Homo sapiens: one gene and its partners. The protein of the gene in region 1 interacts with the protein of each later gene in a biochemical or structural test. Each region holds a gene or a part of one and is shown in the gene's direction. Other genes may lie near its edges.

Region 1 (5,569 bases):
AAGAAGTCTCACAGGTCATTGCCCTGCAGCAAATAGCTAGCAACCAGTTATTACTTAGAGTTATGACTGTGAAAATCTGATACTAAAATGGTGCTAAAGAGTTTTATGAGGATGAAGTTATTTTTGAATGGTTCAAGGAGAAAGAGCAAGGAGAATTAACTCTGAGCTGTGTCTGTTTCCTGTGTTTCAGAGCAGGGCTTGTCTCTGTAATATATGACTGTTAGTTCACTGTGGTTTTCTTTCCTTCTCTTCTCAGGAGGACAAGAAGACCTCATTCTTTCCTATGAGCCTGTTACAAGGCAGGAAAGTAAGTTTCCCAGCACGCTTTCATTCCTAATTTCTGGGCCATAAGAGGTGACATCATTGAAGGAGGGAAAGAGTGAAGGACTAAGGAGAATAAACTCGGCTTAATGCTCTGTTGTCTTGAGACCGTACCTTACTCTTACGCTGTCTCTCACTTTCTCTCTCTTTGACCCTATCACCAAACAGACAACTTCCTGCTGAGTATGGGCACTAATAGCACCTAAGAGAAGGATGCAGCCCTCCAGATGAGTGGTCCTCAATGGGAAGGAACACATTCAAATTACCTAAAGAGCACTAGCTACGAGACTGGTGAATAAATTCTCCTGAGAGACTGATGTCAGCTCAGTATTGAGAATGACTTTCTAGCAGATCTGCCTAAGATGTAGGCTATCTGTAAGCTGCTGCTTTTTCCTGGAGGCATTTATACAGAGGCTAATTGCTACTGACAAGGATACTGCAGAGAGAATTCAAGCATCAGATGGGGACTTGTACCCAATGAACTCTCAGGTTCCTTCTAATCCCAGATACAAGGAAATCTAGAAACTGTAGCAAAGTATAGAGAGTATTTTGATCTGGGGAAAAGAAATCATGAAAACATAAGATGTTATTACTACTAACAATTACTTTTTATAGTCATATCTAAACAATAGCCAAACAGCTGGTTTGGATTCTTTTTTCTCCCACTCAGTTGACTAAATTCAGTTGTTTTGACATTATGTAGGCAGAGCCAGAGAGTAAGCAAAACTCCTCCAAATGTTTCTTTTCATCAACAGATACTGCAATTGCCTTTCCCTGCTAGTAGATTCCAGAAAGTAGGCACTGCCAATCTCCTGAGTGTTAAACATCAATTTCCCTATGCAAGGCTGTATGAGTAATTTATCCAGTGAAGTAATGCCCTTAGCATCTCTTACTGTCTGGCAATTAAGAATCACCCTTGCAGGACAGTTTTGCAGTTGTTTCCAACTCTTTCTCTTTACCTACATCTTCCTTTCCCATTCTGCAGTAAACTACACCCGGCCGGTGATTATCCTGGGGCCCATGAAGGATCGGATCAATGACGACTTGATATCTGAATTCCCTGATAAATTTGGCTCCTGTGTGCCTCGTAAGTGTCATTTTTCTTTCCTCTAGGAAAAACAAAAAGAGCTTGGATTTCTTTATGAGATGGTAAAATGTAATTCCATCCTCCAGTAGTCTCTCCAGTAATTCAAATACCAACCATTTCCGATTAGCTGAGTGCCTTATTTAATTTATTTGCCTAACACTTTTCATTTATGCTGCCGTGTGTCATTCTGTATTTAATAAAAATAATAATGTTTTCTCTAAACTGATTGTAGCCCCTTAAAAGGCAGGATGAATTTTTGTGGCCCCCAACCATTTAAAACAGCATAGGATTTATGATAGGCATCAGTATGTTTTCATAGATTGATCAAAATGCCACTGAAACATTATTTTTTATAGGATGGAAGAGATCGGAAACAAAGCCATATATTAAAATCCTCTCAGGATGACTTAGGGCCATATGTCAATCCCAAAACCCAATAGGCTTTCCCATGTTGACAGTCCCAGGTTTAGGGAGGGTGAAGACAAGAAAATGTGTAACACTTCAATTTGACCTCTAGGCCATTACAGACTTTAAACTACTTTCTTCTCATTATAGATTATCATCAGGCTTCTGGTCCCTCTGATTGTAGCCTTATTAGATTCTAACTGCTCTGCCTCTTCCCCTCCCCACCCCTACCATACTTTCTCCACTCATTCACCCCGTCTACACCCCGACTCTGTCAAACAGAAATGCATGCAGACCTTCTACGTATGTAGACAGGTCCATCAGGAAATTTTAATTTATTAGATAATGGAGCTCTTACATCTGATACCAACAAATATTTCTCTTCCATTCTATGTGTTTTAAGCCTGATGCTTTCAAGTGTCTCTAACATTCCAGTACTGCAAATTTTACATGAGATACTTAAGAATAGCAGGAATTGTATGTGTCCAGTACATGGCCAAAAGACTAGGATGATTGCTGTATCTCATGAAACAATTCCCAGCAAGGGCTCTGGGAAGAGATCCTGCCATAGAACATATCCTGAGAAAGTCTTCAGACAGGAAGGAGCAAATGAAACTCCAGGTCGTTTACAGCAAGCTTCCAGCTTGCTCCTCCACTTTTGAGAGAAAGAAAACAGAAGGTACTTAAGCATTCTTTCTGCTTTCCCTTTCACCTTGCATATTCTCTCTTTTTTGAATTAATAGAACCATTTTGTGATAGTCAATAGATGTTCATTGTACAAAACTTCAAAAACACTAAAAAGAAAGTTAAACGAGAAAATTAGAAGTATACAAAATCCCACACAATACCCAGAGATAACATCATTGTTAATATTTTTGTACATTTCCATCTATTCTTTCTATGCATGCATTTTTTCTCTGTGATGATTTTTTTGCTTATTTAAAATTTTATATAACTATTTCAAATGATTATTATATCCCAATTAATCATTCTTTATGAACATTTTGGTTTTTCCCTATTTTTCACTATTATGAATTGTGACAAAAATATCATCGTAATTGTGTTATAATTATTACTTATAAAATAATATAATGAATATCTTTAAGGATAAATCTGTATCTGAAGTTTTGATCATTTTTAAAAACATATTTCTAGGAAAAAATAAGTGAGTCAAAGATTAAAAATATTTTAACAGCTTTTATTCATATTGCTAGATTGCTTTCCCCTTCTCTTCTTACCAAAAAATTTAGGTGAAATGGTTAGAGTTGCTGATTTTTAGTCCTATCTAACTGTGATTATCTTATTTTATATATGTTGAGAGTCTGAATTTTATGGTCCTTTATAGAATGTTAAGTTTTTGTTCTGACAGGTGATAATTTACTGACACAGCAGCTTCTTCCATTTGTGACATGGTTTTAGACTTTGTGAAGATGGGTGTAGAGTAAGTCTAGAGTAACCTTTTAAAATGTGGCCTTTCTGGGATCTCCATGGGTTCTGACTCAACTCCCGTGTCTTCTAGCACCATGTGATGTCTAAACTCTCCATTTGGAAATGGCCTCTAGGTAGAGAGGTGGGGTGAATGCTCTCTCATATGTTTCTCTTTTCTCAAAGATTACAGCCCTGTACTTCCTGTTGTCTGATATCTGAAAACAGTTGTTTCATATATTTTGTCCAGTTTTTTAGTTGCTTATGGTGGGAGGGTAAGACTAGTACCTGTTACTATGTCATATTTCTTCATACTACATATTTCTACATATCAATGTTGAGGATGTGGTGGAGAATATAGGTGTAAAGCAAGTTTATGGGTATAAATGCACCTTAATTTTATCATTTTTTGTTTTATAAAGATACTACGAGGCCAAAGCGAGACTACGAGGTGGATGGCAGAGACTATCACTTTGTCATTTCCAGAGAACAAATGGAGAAAGATATCCAAGAGCACAAGTTTATAGAAGCCGGCCAGTACAATGACAATTTATATGGAACCAGTGTGCAGTCTGTGAGATTTGTAGCAGAAAGAGTATGTTCACCAATCTTCTTACACCTCCCCTGAAGAAGGTTTCTAGGTTGCAAACTGCATTTTTTTTTTTTTTTGGTCATTACTCTTTCTTGATTGCAATTGTAAATTTTGATTTAATAATTTAAAACATCCAAGCAGAGAATCACCTTAGAGCAATGTCATTAATCTTTGTTCTAATTTCAATAAAGTATTCTCACTGACTTGGAAAAAGTAGGAAGAGGGCTTTGTCTTTGACTCACTATCTGAGGCCCCAATACACAACCTTGATTTTATTAAGGCAGGTTTACTACTTTAGTTGTAAACCAAGGGGATAGCATTCCTGAATTATTTTGTTAGAGGAAGTTATTTTTTTTCTCTCTCTCTGAAAACTTGACATCCTCATGGTAGAAGAGAAGATAGATGAGAAGGGCTGCCCAGCCTTTTGCTCGCAGAAGTTCTAGCTTAGAGGAGGTGTAGATGCTGCTATTATCTTTTTGCTGGTAACTTCAGGGGCATGGAAAAGAGAAGAATGTTCAAGAGAGGGTACCATAGGAAGGCACCTGGGTGTGGCTACACAATCTGCCTACAGAGGGATCCTATTTCCTGTGAACACAGAGAACCAGTATCATAGGAGAAGATATTTGTTGGGTTGATTTGATTTGCCATGACCTTTCTCAATGTACCGCTAAAGAATTAAGTAATTTTGATGTCTATCTAAGAATACACTAAGAAGTTGCATCTATTTTCCTCCCTCTCAAAAGTTCAGTTCTATCAACTAAATGAATACTGGTTCTAGTCAAACTGTCCTGGATAATTGCACCTATTTTCCTCTTTGTTCATGTTGTTAACTTGAAATGTTCTGACTGGTGAATAATCAACCAGCATTTATACATGTTATGTGGCTGCTGCACTTCACAGATAGAAAACTTGAAATCTATTACCTAAGTAATAACGGCTTGAACCATCTTAGTGGGTTTCTCAGATAAGAAGACTTCAAGTATTCACTGGACTGTATTCATTTTCATGTGAACATTATAGATGAGATTTTAGCCCTTATTATTGATTTAGTATTGTTCCTATCTGCATAAAGTGCCTTTTTTCTCTTCTTGCATAAAGTTATTCTAGCCTCAGGGTAATGAGGACATTTCTCTCCAGGAGGTAGAATATGATGTGGCAAATGTATCTGCATATCCAGAAATGCTTTATAAAGCAGCTGCTTGCTCTGAGCACTCATTGTGGTGGAAGCCAAGTTAAATGAGGTGTGCTATAATGTAATAGCATTTTTATTTGTTAACAAACAAGAAATTTACATACCTCATGCAAGCCTTTCTCTCTTGGCATTTAACCCGCATTTAATTTATATATATATATATATATATGTTTTAATTATATATTTTATATGTGTGTGTGTATATATATATATATATATATATATATATATATATATATACATATAGTTTTTATTTTTTTTGAGATGGCATTTCACTCTTATTGCCCAGGCTGGAATGCCATGGCACGGTCTCAGCTCACTGCAACCTCCACCTCCTGGGTTCAAGTGATTCTCCTGCCTCAGCCTCTCAAGTAGCTGGGATTACAGGTGCCCACCACCATGCCTGGTGAACTTTTTGGATTTTTAGCAGAGACAGGGTCTCACCATTTTGGTCAGGCTGGTCTCGAACTCCTGATCTCAGGTGATCCACCCGCCTCGGCCTCCTAGAGTGCTAGGATTACAGCCATGAGCCACTGCACCCAACCAA
Region 2 (3,898 bases), on another chromosome or scaffold:
CATACCATGTACATGCCAAGCATCTGCCCACAACTAGACACAAGTGTACATCAAGCAGGTATGTGCATGGTTGTACACCAGAACATGCTTACAAGTATGTACATACGAATACACACTACAAATACATTCACATTTACCTCTCTAACAACAATAGCCAACATTTATATAGCACTTACTCTGTGTCAAGGACTGTTCTGTTTTTAATGTATTAATGTATTTATTCCTCACAACTACCCTAGAATATGGAGGCACAAAGCGGTTAAGAAACTTGCCTCAGATCGCAAACTATTAAGTGATGGAGCTAAGAATCAAGGCCTTAAATCATGCAGCAGATGTAGGTCCCCAAGCCTGTACACATACAAAGACACACACCAAGCACCCAAGCAGGGACACGTTCATATCCAGAGGAGCGTGCCCATGAAAATCCAGAAATATTTGTCTTTCCTCAAGTTTGCATGTTATACATTGTTTTATAGGCCCGTTTGACACAAGAAAGACTCAGCTATATACACTGATGCATGGGGCCACTCAGAAACAAATGATATGTGTTTGATCTCCTAACACCCTTTGGTTATCTCATCACATCTTCCCACCTACTTCTTTTGCTAAGTACTTCATCTTCTCACATGTGGTTTTCTATGCTCAGCATTTATGGACAACTCTTACCCCTCCCTACCCTTCCCCATATCACCACCACTCCTCATTCTGTCCTCTCAAGCATGGGTCCCTCATAACAATGCCCTGTCTCCTTCCTTTCTATATAGAGTGACTTAATGTATGATAGGCTCAGTGTCCTGATCGATGTCCTGGCTGAGGAGGCAGCAGCTACTTCTGCTGAAAAAAGTGCTACAGAATATGCAGACAGCAGCAAGGCAGATAGGAAGCCCTTCATTCCTCAAATAGACCACATAGCCAAGTGCAAGTTGGAGCTGGCTACAAAGGCCCAGAGTCTCCAGAAATCCTTGAAACTCATCATATTTCAAGTTGAACAAGGTAAGGTGGCCAGGGTTGTAGTGACTGAGGTAGGGGAAAGAAAAAGTTCCAGAGGATGGTTTACTGGCCTCACTGACTCCGGGTTTGCTCTCTGACTCTGCTACAAAAAGTCTAGATTCTGCATTCATATTGTATACAAAGTCAGTATTCAGACTACTGATTTGAAAAGCCTCAGTCCTGCTAAGCTGCCCCTTTGGCTCCTCCTACCTCCCAGACAGTCAACTCCTGCTACTCATTTTTGGAAACCAACACTCATCCTATACAATTATATTAATAGATGCTAAGTGACCTGGTTCAAAGCTCTATCAGCTTCCACCACCAGCCATAAGACTTTTTTCCTCCTTCTCCTGTTTCTTTCCAACCACTGAGCCTATGACTATTTTAGAAAGAAAATGGTGTTCAACTCTGCATGTGTTGCACATGATTAATCAGGCACAAGGGCCCTGAGAGTGGTCCTGACAGTTCTAGCATTAATTACCATTGCTCAGAACTCACGACAGTCTGCAAACTTCCCAACTCAGAATGAAAACTCTTCAACTCCCTCAGTTTCTTCATTGAATGTTTTGCTGACCACTTCTTTCCCACAATACTTTGAGAAACAGATCAGAAGGTGGTATAAGAATGAGTGTATTCTAACTGAACTATTGGAACTGAGCAGAAGTCCCATGCAGCAAGGAAGTCCCTTTGGCTGGCCCTTGACTTTTAGCCATGGTGCCTTGCCCTGCCTTGGTACCTTCACGTACAACCTCAGCCAAGTTTCCTAGAAAGAAAGAAAATCTCCCTTCTGCACAGTGGAAGGATTAAACAATCAATTTGCCTCTATTTCTATAATTAGTTTCCAAGCAGTGTGGATCAGATTAAACGGATGTAGCCATAACTGTCGCAACCAACCCTCAGTCTGCTCCATCAACACATATGTTAGATTTAGAGGTGTAGCTTGTGGCTATGAGATAGGAAAATACCTCCCTGGTAGGGGTAGAGATTGAACCTATGAGCTTTGACACAGGCTGAGACTGGGCATCTCAGCTATACAACATTTGGCTGGTGAAAGGAAAGAGACTTCCCAAATGTTCCAGGTGTGGAGTGAGACATTAGAGTGAAAGAGTGGCACAGTCCTAGAGGCTCAATTATAGACAAAAGCCACATAAGTAAATGAACTAATAGAATGGAGGTAGAAGAGCAGAGAGTTTCCCATGCTGATACCCCAATCCACAGCCACAAGCTTCTACTCACAACCACATGTACTGGGTGAGAGAAAAAAGAGTAACCAGTAAAACAAAGAAAGCTCAGGCATGAATATGAAAAAACAGCAACACTGTAAGCAAGCTGAGACTACAAACAGTATCATGGAGGAGACGTGATGGTCGAATGGGAGTCTCCATCATCTACCCACTAACTAAACAAAATAGATGCTCGATAAATGTTCAATAAGTGTAATTAATCTTTCCTTCCTTCCATCCTCCCTCCCTCCTTTCTTCCTCCCTCCCTTCCTCCTTTCTTTTTTGCTTTCCTTCCTCCCACTTTTCTCTATAGCTCTGGATGAGGAAAGCAGACAGACAATATCTGTTAAGAACTTTAGTTCAACTTTCTTCCTGGAAGATGACCCAGAAGATATTAACCAGACAAGCCCACGACGCCGTAAGGATCTTTCTGTCTTCTTCCCTTATTCTAGCCTTCGTCACTGTTGTTTAGCTCCCAAAGAATAAATATGTATTTTTTATGCATCCTCTTTTAGCCATAATCCTGCAGTAGATACCCCTCCGTCTTTCCCAGAAACTCACACTATAAGATCCCATGCCAATGTCCAGAGTAATGACCCCATTAGGAACATTGAAGAGGCTGGCCTGATGAAATACAAGATTTGAAGTTGTTTTCACTGCCAGCAAGCAAGCAGCCCAGCTTTATTCTTCTCTCAGTGGAAGTCCCTATCCATCCAAGAGGATCCCTCTTTGGAATTAGAACCCTTAATATTATCTAGGAGAAAGTCACTGAGCTTGACCCTGCCTCCACAGAGAAAATAGGGCGAAATACAAGTGAGGGGAAAGGGCTTTTTTGTTTGTATCCGTCACCCAAGTGATGTCTTTTGTGTCTAGGTTCTCGTCGTGGCACTTTGTCTTCTATATCTTCTCTCAAAAGTGAGGACCTGGACAACCTTAACTTGGATCACTTACATTTTACACCTGAATCTATGTAAGTATTTAACTCTATCACCTTTTAATGGCTTCTTTCTTTCTCTTGTTAAGAGCACAATCTTAGGATATCCATAGTCAAATCCTTTCTCTTACTTACTAGCTGTGTCACCTACGCAAGTGACTAAACCAGTGTGAGCCTCAGTTTTCTCATATGTAAAATGAAGACCATTGTAGAACTTGCATCATGGGTTTGCTGTATTTATTACATTTATATATGAAAAGTACTTGCACTGAGTAGTGCTTGGCACCCATAATTAAGTGTTATATGCATTTGCAGTTATTATTGTTATTATTATAAATAATTAATAAATGTTAGTTGTTGTTATTACAGAGGACTTGCTTTTTTTCACTGTTGCCCTTAACAGTAAATGGTTGAAGATACTAAAAACTAAAATGGTCACTAGGGGACTAGGCAGCAAATCTAAGGACATCTGTCTCACCAGTTCTCCCTCTTTAGAATATCGGCAGCAGCCAAGTTCTGCCACACTCACTCATTCTGAGTTCCATTAAGAAGATCAGTTTGGACATTAGTTAGAGAAACTCCAATCTCTGGACTGTGGTTGAGGGAGGCAAATCTCATGTGAGAGATGTAAGGTCAGTATGGTAATGAATAAAAAAGTAATCTAAGATTAAACAGCTAAACTGTATCCATTTAATTTCTCAAAAGGACACAGCTAGAAATTATTTATGTTTTCTTAAATAATTTATTTAAG
Region 3 (3,470 bases), on another chromosome or scaffold:
AGGAAGTTAAGATTGTGTCATGTATTAATTTGAGAGTACAGTGAATAGAATAATAGTTTGTATTTACCTACAGGGACTCAAAACAGGTTATAATAATTTTTCATTGCCTTGATATATCCTGGATTGGATTTGAGTGGAGAGAGACAGAACCCAGCAGAAATGAAGAAAGGAGATAATGGGAAAAGCAGTAGACGGACCTGGTTACAACGTGTAACATTTTTAGATACTTAAACAATAATGAGTACTTGTACACCTGGATGATTTTGACAAGTCAAATCACATTAAATTGTGAACATCTTGCTGAAAATACTTATTACACTTGACACTTTTTTGTTTTATTTTGAAGGCGCTTCATCTAATTGATGAAATGGATTTGAATGGTGACAAAAAGCTCTCTGAAGAAGAGATTCTGGAAAACCCGGACTTGTTTCTCACCAGTGAAGCCACAGATTATGGCAGACAGCTCCATGATGACTATTTCTATCATGATGAGCTTTAATCTCTGAGCCTGTCTCAGTAGAGTACTGGCTCCTTTTATAATTTGTTACCAGCTTTACTTTTGTGATAAAATATTGATGTTGTATTTTACACTCTTAAGTCTTAACCACAGTCAGAATTATCTTAATGTAGATTATAATTTTGGTCTTTTAGGAAAAAAAAACAAAAATCTGATATTTATTTCAAAATGTATTGAAGCAACAAAATATTAATATTGTGCCATATGACAACAAAGTCTTTCCTAAATACTCCATCTGTTTAGTACTGTATTGTGGAATATTTGAGTTCTATTTCCATACTTGAAAACATGGAGGATTTTAGAGATGCCTGAACAATATTATTTAAGTAGTATGTGACCGAGCTATAAATTTTTGTTTTTGTTCTAAGTAGATTTAATTTGGGAACTGACAGGACAATGTTTTTAGGTTTAGCATTTTGTTTAAAAACCTTTAAAGAAACCTTTAGAAGGACTTAGACCTCACATATTAATGTTGAGAAGTTCTGCTTAATTTTAAAATGGTTTCTATAAAGGGTTTTATTGTATGAAATAGAACTTTATATTTTTGCATATGTATAGATAGTAATTATATTTAATGTATAACTATAGCATTATGGTGAGTGGAATTTGACATTGTCCAAACCTTTTTCATTTTTGAGTGATTAAAAATGAAATGTCCTTTGTATATGTTTGTTTGCTTTTCTTTAACTTTCAGATAAATATTGAATTTAGCATAGGTTTTGTGGTATTGTACATTATCTTGCCTCATCCATTCCTTTATGTGGATAGTTCCCAAAACTGTCAAATTATTCTTGCTGCATTTTCTTATTTTTTTTTTAAATAAGAGAATCATGTTATAATATAATTGAATGTGCACCTGACACATTTTAATAATTGGTGTTGTAGCAAATGTGGTTTTGCTCTTTGGGGCTATAAATAATCTTGAGTAACGCAGGTTGGAATTACCAATAGAGCTGGTCAGTTATCAACAGTAGAGCTCAGTATCAATTTTACTGAAATTAAAATCATACTTGATAAGCATGATAATCAATTTTAACCTAATTCAGCAGGTCAACTTATTTAACTTTGGTGGAGGTGGGATAGGGAAAAGTGAAGGGAGGAATTAATTTTTTTCTAGTTCTGATGTACAGAGATTGTTTTTCATTCTTTTTTTTTTTTTTTTTTTTGTGACAGAGTCTTGCTCTGTGGCCCAGGCTGGAGTGCAGGGGCACTATCTCGGCTCACTGCAAGCTCTGCCTCCTGGGTTCACGCCATTCTCCTGCCTCAGCCTCCCGAGTAGCTGGGACTACAGGCGCCTGCCACCACACCCGGCTAATTTTTTTGTATTTTTAGTAGAGACCGGGTTTCACCGTGTTAGCCAGGATGGTTTCGATCTCCTGACCTCATGATCAGCCCACCTCGGCCTCCCAAGGTGCTGGAATTACAGGCGTGAGCCAACGCGCACGGCCTCTAGTTTTTCATTCTTTAAATCACTTTTATTTGTGGGTGAAGAGGTCAGCTATGCATTCTCTTAATCACTTTCCAGCCTAAAGTTGTCTCATATACAGCACACTGGGGGCTCAACAAGTACCTATGACTATTTGAGAAGACATGAAACTCTTCTCTGATAGAATCGACTGCACCTATATACCTCTCTACTGCCGCATCTTTGCTGATGTGAGGTGTGCTTGCAAATTGTAAGCTTCCACACCTTAATGACTGCTTGCTTGGGTATCTACATGGTTTTCATTTTAACCTACACTATATGTCTGGCTATAGCAGTTTTAGAATTACAGATTTACCACTATCACTCATCTGTCATTTGTCAGACTCACTGAAGCTGGCATATTTGAAATCACCAGTTTGACTAGTTAACTATTTGTTTTTCTCTCTAGCTTCTCCAAAATCTATGCCAGAATAGATCATCAGATATGGATTATATTTCAATCCTTTGCAGAAATGCAATGTCTGTACTACTTTCCTTCCTAGCATAAAGAAAACTACACTTCCCAGCCCTCTTGTAGGTAGGCGATGGCTAGTTCTGACCAGTTAAACATGGGTGGAAGTAGTGTGTGTCACTATCAGACTATCTCATGACAAACCCTTTTCCTCTGCCACAGCACTGTGCAGGAGGCCTCAGCTGAAATGGTGCAGCCACAAGATGAAAGTGGCTTTGATCTTGAGTCTGTGTAGGTCAGCTGGATCCACAGTGGGCTTTGTATGATCAAAAAATAAGCTTTTAATTATGTTAAGCCACTGAGATTTGGTTGTGCTTTTTTGTTTTTAACCACAGCAGAGCCCATCCTGCTGTGACTGAGTGAAGATTTCACATTTAACAATAGGCTTTTAATAAGCATGCAGAGAAAAAGAATCATCTGCTTGAACAGAGATGCTATATCTACTGCTGAGTCAAAATAGAAAATTTTAAGGCTTTTTTTAGATTTGAATTTTAAATAAGACTTTTAAAATAAAGCTTTTATTTTGGTTTTAATATAATTAGGATAATTTGAATTTATCCTTGAGCATGAGAGTAAAAATAGTTTGAGACTTTCTGAATCATTGGCTGATTCTGCCTGAAGGACTTAATGACTTCCATTATTTGAGTTCAGGTACAACTTCAAAGGGGAAAATTGAATGGGATGTGCACATGTTGGCTCATATGTAGTTCTGATTGGGCCAATTTGCAGGACAGAAAATGATGTCTAGATTATGATATAAATTTAAAGGAAGCCAGGACGTTCAGAGGAAAAGCTAGCATATCATGTTTGCCTTACTTAGTTCTTTCCTTTGCAGTTTTAAAAATAGGCTTTTTTTTTTTTTAGTGTAGTTTTATGTTCACAGCAAAATTGAGCAAAAAGTAGTATAGAGAGTTTCAATATGTCCCCTGCCCCACATACGTACAGCCTCCCCCACTATCCTATCCTATATGTCATGAGATAGTACCTACCAGAGTGGTACATTTGTTAAAATCGAT
Region 4 (3,898 bases), 5.6 Mb from region 1:
TATAATTTCCAAGATCATCTTAGGTGAATAAAACAAGGGGCATTTCTGTATATATAACATTTTATTTTTTCTAAAAGGGGTTTTTATGCAAACAATTTGATTGGATCTTCATAGAATTGTTCTCAGAGAAGAGCAAAACTACTAAGAGTTGCTGCTTCTGAGAAGAAATCTAAGTTAAGAAATGAGGTGGAATATTTTATGCATAATTTTTATATACATACACTTTAAGCTCTATATTAAATACATAATTTACCTACTGAAATATAACAATTACATGAAAACATTCTATTTGTGGGAAAACAAAAGACAATAGAAATTGCAATGCCAAATTCAGGCAAAATATTTAGGTTGTACCACCAGGATTCAGGAGAGAACAAACCTTGGAATTGGACATTCAAAGGTTGGAAGAAATACTCGTTTGCTTACTGTTTATGTGGTTGTGTCAAGAAATATTTATCTTGCTTTGATCCCAAGCAAGTATGTGAATAACGAGGTTATGTAGTGTTAAGTCTTATGATTTATCAGTACAAGAATGGCATGGTAGGAATTTTCACAAGGTGAAACTCACCTCCAGGATCAGAAAAGTGAGAGTCAAACAGGATACAGCTTTGTTGGGTACTGTGGGAACTCTCTAAGGTCATGCTTTTTTTTTTTTTTCCTCCCCACTTGGTTTTTCAGAAAGTCTTGGTGGGATCTTCCATGAAATGATAGTGTCAGTTATCATCCAGTCTCTTCCTCTCACTGGGTTGAGGTGATTTTCTCTAGCATTAGGAGAATTAATCCCAGTACTTGATAATTTATCTTCATATTCTTATAATTATTCTCCTTTGTTCCATCAATATTCTCTTTCTTGAAGAGTATGGAAATTTCCAAATGCTTTCACATGAACCATTAAGGTCTGTGAAAAGATGTGGTCCTATTTTCAAAAAACATTTTTTCTCCTAATTGCCTATGTGTTTTATACTTAAACCTAACCGTACTGTGTCACGGGTACCACAAGATGTTCCTTCAAGAAAGTGTATGTCATCACAGAATTCCAGAGGAGTGTACAAGGAAAACTGGGTTTCAGCTTCGATGTTAATCTCTTACACTTGCTATTTCCTGTGATTTATGGCTTTAGTAGGCTGTGTGACTGGGTATTTACTGTGGCTTGTTCTATTACACAGAAATTATGCCTGGAACTTCTAGGCAAAGAGATTTATAGTATAAAACAGAAGAAGAAGAAAAAAGAAAGCATTTTTTAAAGAGCAGATCAAACTAGCTCTTCAACTGGGCAGAGGAAAGGAATATGCAATGACTCAGAAGAAAAGTAAAATCACTTCTTTTAATGGAGTAAGAACTCTCTCTGCACTAAGGAAATGTAAAGGGTCCTTTGCCTTAGTACTTTTGCAAACCTTGATACATGTGCCCACGATGACACAGGATTGATGGTGCTTGCCCATTTAGCAGTGTGGCAGATTGCATTGATGACGTCTACTAATGGTGCTTCTGTATTCACATCATTTGCTTTTGACTTGATAATTCCCTTTTACTTTCATGTAGCACTGGCCTTCTGACACTTTGACCAATAGCACTTGGTTGACGTGAGAACTTTCTTCCTAGTTTGTGTTGGAACCCTATTGTCACCCTGTGAAGTATGAGAGCACCCAGGTTTTCCAAATGAGTGCATCTTAGACCAGTTGACCTCAAACATGTGAGAGCGTGCAATGCAGATCAACAAAATTGCCTTTCCAACCCACAGCTAATTGCAATCACATAATTGAGCCCAGCTGAAACCCTCAACATTACCCAGCTGACTATTATTGTTAGCAATAAAAAATGCCTTCAGGATGGAGTCCAGTATAAACATACTCATCCCTCTCACTTTAGTCTCTAACTTCCCTTCTCCCAAATCAGATACTATTGCTTAAACTTCAAAAGCAAAAAAAAAAAAATAACATGCATTAATATTCTTGAAATTCGAATATGAAATAAAACAGAATATATGCTGTGGGCAAGAAAGAATATTTAAAATGCTTTGCCTATACTTCTGTGGCTAGAGATGTGATAGTTCCCTTAAAGTCTGAATGTTTCAAATAGTTAAGCGCTTGAATATATTTCATTATTATATTCTTTACCTTGATCTAGTTCAACTTCATTAAGAAAAGTAATTATTGTATTGTGTTTTATACAAAAAAAAATTTTATATTGTACTTCCTGGGTGATTGACAAGATTTCACACTTCACTAGTTTTCCTGACTTTAGTTGAAAATCTACAGCATATCCACAGGGCCTATTAGAGTGCCCATCATATAATATGTGCTCAAAGACTATTTGCTGAATAGAGGAATTTGTGTTAGTGAAGTACGTAGCTCACCATTTATGACTATATAGTATGTGGATAAATAGCAGGCACTTGTAAGTTTTTAGTTTTGCTTCTTTATAAAAATGAGGTGTCAAAATGACTCCCTTGATTAATTGTAAAATCCTGTTCACGCTACACTTCATTTTCTGTTTTCACTGGTTCTTGAATTTATTATTTCTGTCTAATGACAGGAATGTTAATTTGTTACAGCAAAAAACAAATCAGTGATGTTCTGGGGAGAAAAATGTACCAATAAATTGTACTGGTAGCATACATTATTGAAGATATGGTCTTCAGGTTAACCTAGAGATTGCAATTTCAGGTTATAATATGACTTCCCATCAGTTATTTACTTAAAAATGTGATAACAATCCAGCTTTGATTGAAGGAACTTCAGTATGATTCATAGTCTATATGCTTGTTTGACTTCTAAAAACTGGGAGTACACTTTTCCCATCTCAGCATTTCTACTAATTATCATTACACAAGACAATTTACCTTGGAAAAATAATAAATGGTACTGTGGAAGCTACTGAATAATTTTTAAAAGGACTTTATTTTGTTTCTCCAGGAATTGAACAGTGCTGAGAGTTAAAACAAATTTTGGGATGATCATGGTAATAATAAAGACACATAAATTACTATTCATTCCATAGAATGTTAACACTGTGTCTCAGGCCAGCATTTAATCTTCTGTATTTTACGGTTAAGGAAACTAAAATAGAAAGGTCACATAACTCTACCTTGCTTGTCAGATAATTAGTTGCAGAGTTGTGTCTTGGAACTCAAGATTTCTGTCCAGAACTTGGTTTCCAAAACATTGCTGGAGATTATTAGTCAGGTTCCTTTTTGCCATTTTTCTACCTCTCCATTGCATTGTTTTATTCACTCTCCCTTTATCTCAGTGGCACCAATATTTCTAAACAATTGGCTGAAAGTGTTAATAACTATCTGAAATAGTAGAAGGGACCACAAATGAAATAATTCATCTAAAAATTAGCCTTCACAGGAGAATTGCTTGAACCTGGGAGGTGGAGGTTGCAGTGAGCCAAGATCATGCCATTGCACTCCAGCCTGGGTGACAAAAGCAAAACTGTCTCAAAAAATAAAAATAAAAATTAGCCTTGAGAAATAGCATGATCAATTTGCTCTTGATCTGTAAATTAGATGAAGTGCTCCTTTTCCTGGGTCGTATCGAAGGTTTGCGGAAACTCTGAAAGATTTTCCTTTGCTCCACAAAAATTCTGAAAACATGAGATCCCCAGAAATCTTTGAAATTATGGATTGATTGTATAATTATATTGGTTACCACTGACTTAACAATATATACAATTTAGAAGATGCAGAAACTTTTAGGGGAATTCTTTAGTAAGTTGGATCTGGATCCGTAATCTGGGAAACACAGTGGGCAACTCTAATTGTAAAGAAACAGTTTTTCATATTCATATATCACTGTCAGAAACTTCATTGCTAGCAGTGAAAAAAATACAGATAGCTCTGGAAAGAGCGTTTAGAGGGGCATTCCCTCCTCTTCCCTTCCAGAAGGAACAGTCT

What was found. The genes of interacting proteins can lie anywhere in the genome.
Region 2: the proteins of DLG2 (region 1) and DGKK interact in a test that uses a peptide from one of them, tested with the Homo sapiens proteins (one large-scale study listed by IntAct).
Region 3: the proteins of DLG2 (region 1) and RCN2 interact in a test that uses a peptide from one of them, tested with the Homo sapiens proteins (one large-scale study listed by IntAct).
Region 4: the proteins of DLG2 (region 1) and GRM5 interact in a test that uses a peptide from one of them, tested with the Homo sapiens proteins (one large-scale study listed by IntAct).

What each region holds. Positions count from the first base shown.
Region 1 is NC_000011.10:83,467,465-83,473,033, reverse strand, and holds part of DLG2 (disks large homolog 2), read left to right. Parts: intron 1-256; coding exon 257-307; intron 308-1,306; coding exon 1,307-1,408; intron 1,409-3,660; coding exon 3,661-3,833; intron 3,834-5,569. UniProt on the Homo sapiens protein: Required for perception of chronic pain through NMDA receptor signaling. Regulates surface expression of NMDA receptors in dorsal horn neurons of the spinal cord.
Region 2 is NC_000023.11:50,383,453-50,387,350, reverse strand, and holds part of DGKK (diacylglycerol kinase kappa), read left to right. Parts: intron 1-764; coding exon 765-993; intron 994-2,526; coding exon 2,527-2,631; intron 2,632-3,086; coding exon 3,087-3,183; intron 3,184-3,898. UniProt on the Homo sapiens protein: Diacylglycerol kinase that converts diacylglycerol/DAG into phosphatidic acid/phosphatidate/PA and regulates the respective levels of these two bioactive lipids.
Region 3 is NC_000015.10:76,948,724-76,952,193, forward strand, and holds part of RCN2 (reticulocalbin-2 isoform a precursor), read left to right. Parts: intron 1-346; coding exon 347-499; 3' UTR 500-3,470.
Region 4 is NC_000011.10:89,041,610-89,045,507, reverse strand, and holds part of GRM5 (metabotropic glutamate receptor 5 isoform a precursor), read left to right. Parts: intron 1-3,898. UniProt on the Homo sapiens protein: G-protein coupled receptor for glutamate. Ligand binding causes a conformation change that triggers signaling via guanine nucleotide-binding proteins (G proteins) and modulates the activity of down-stream effectors.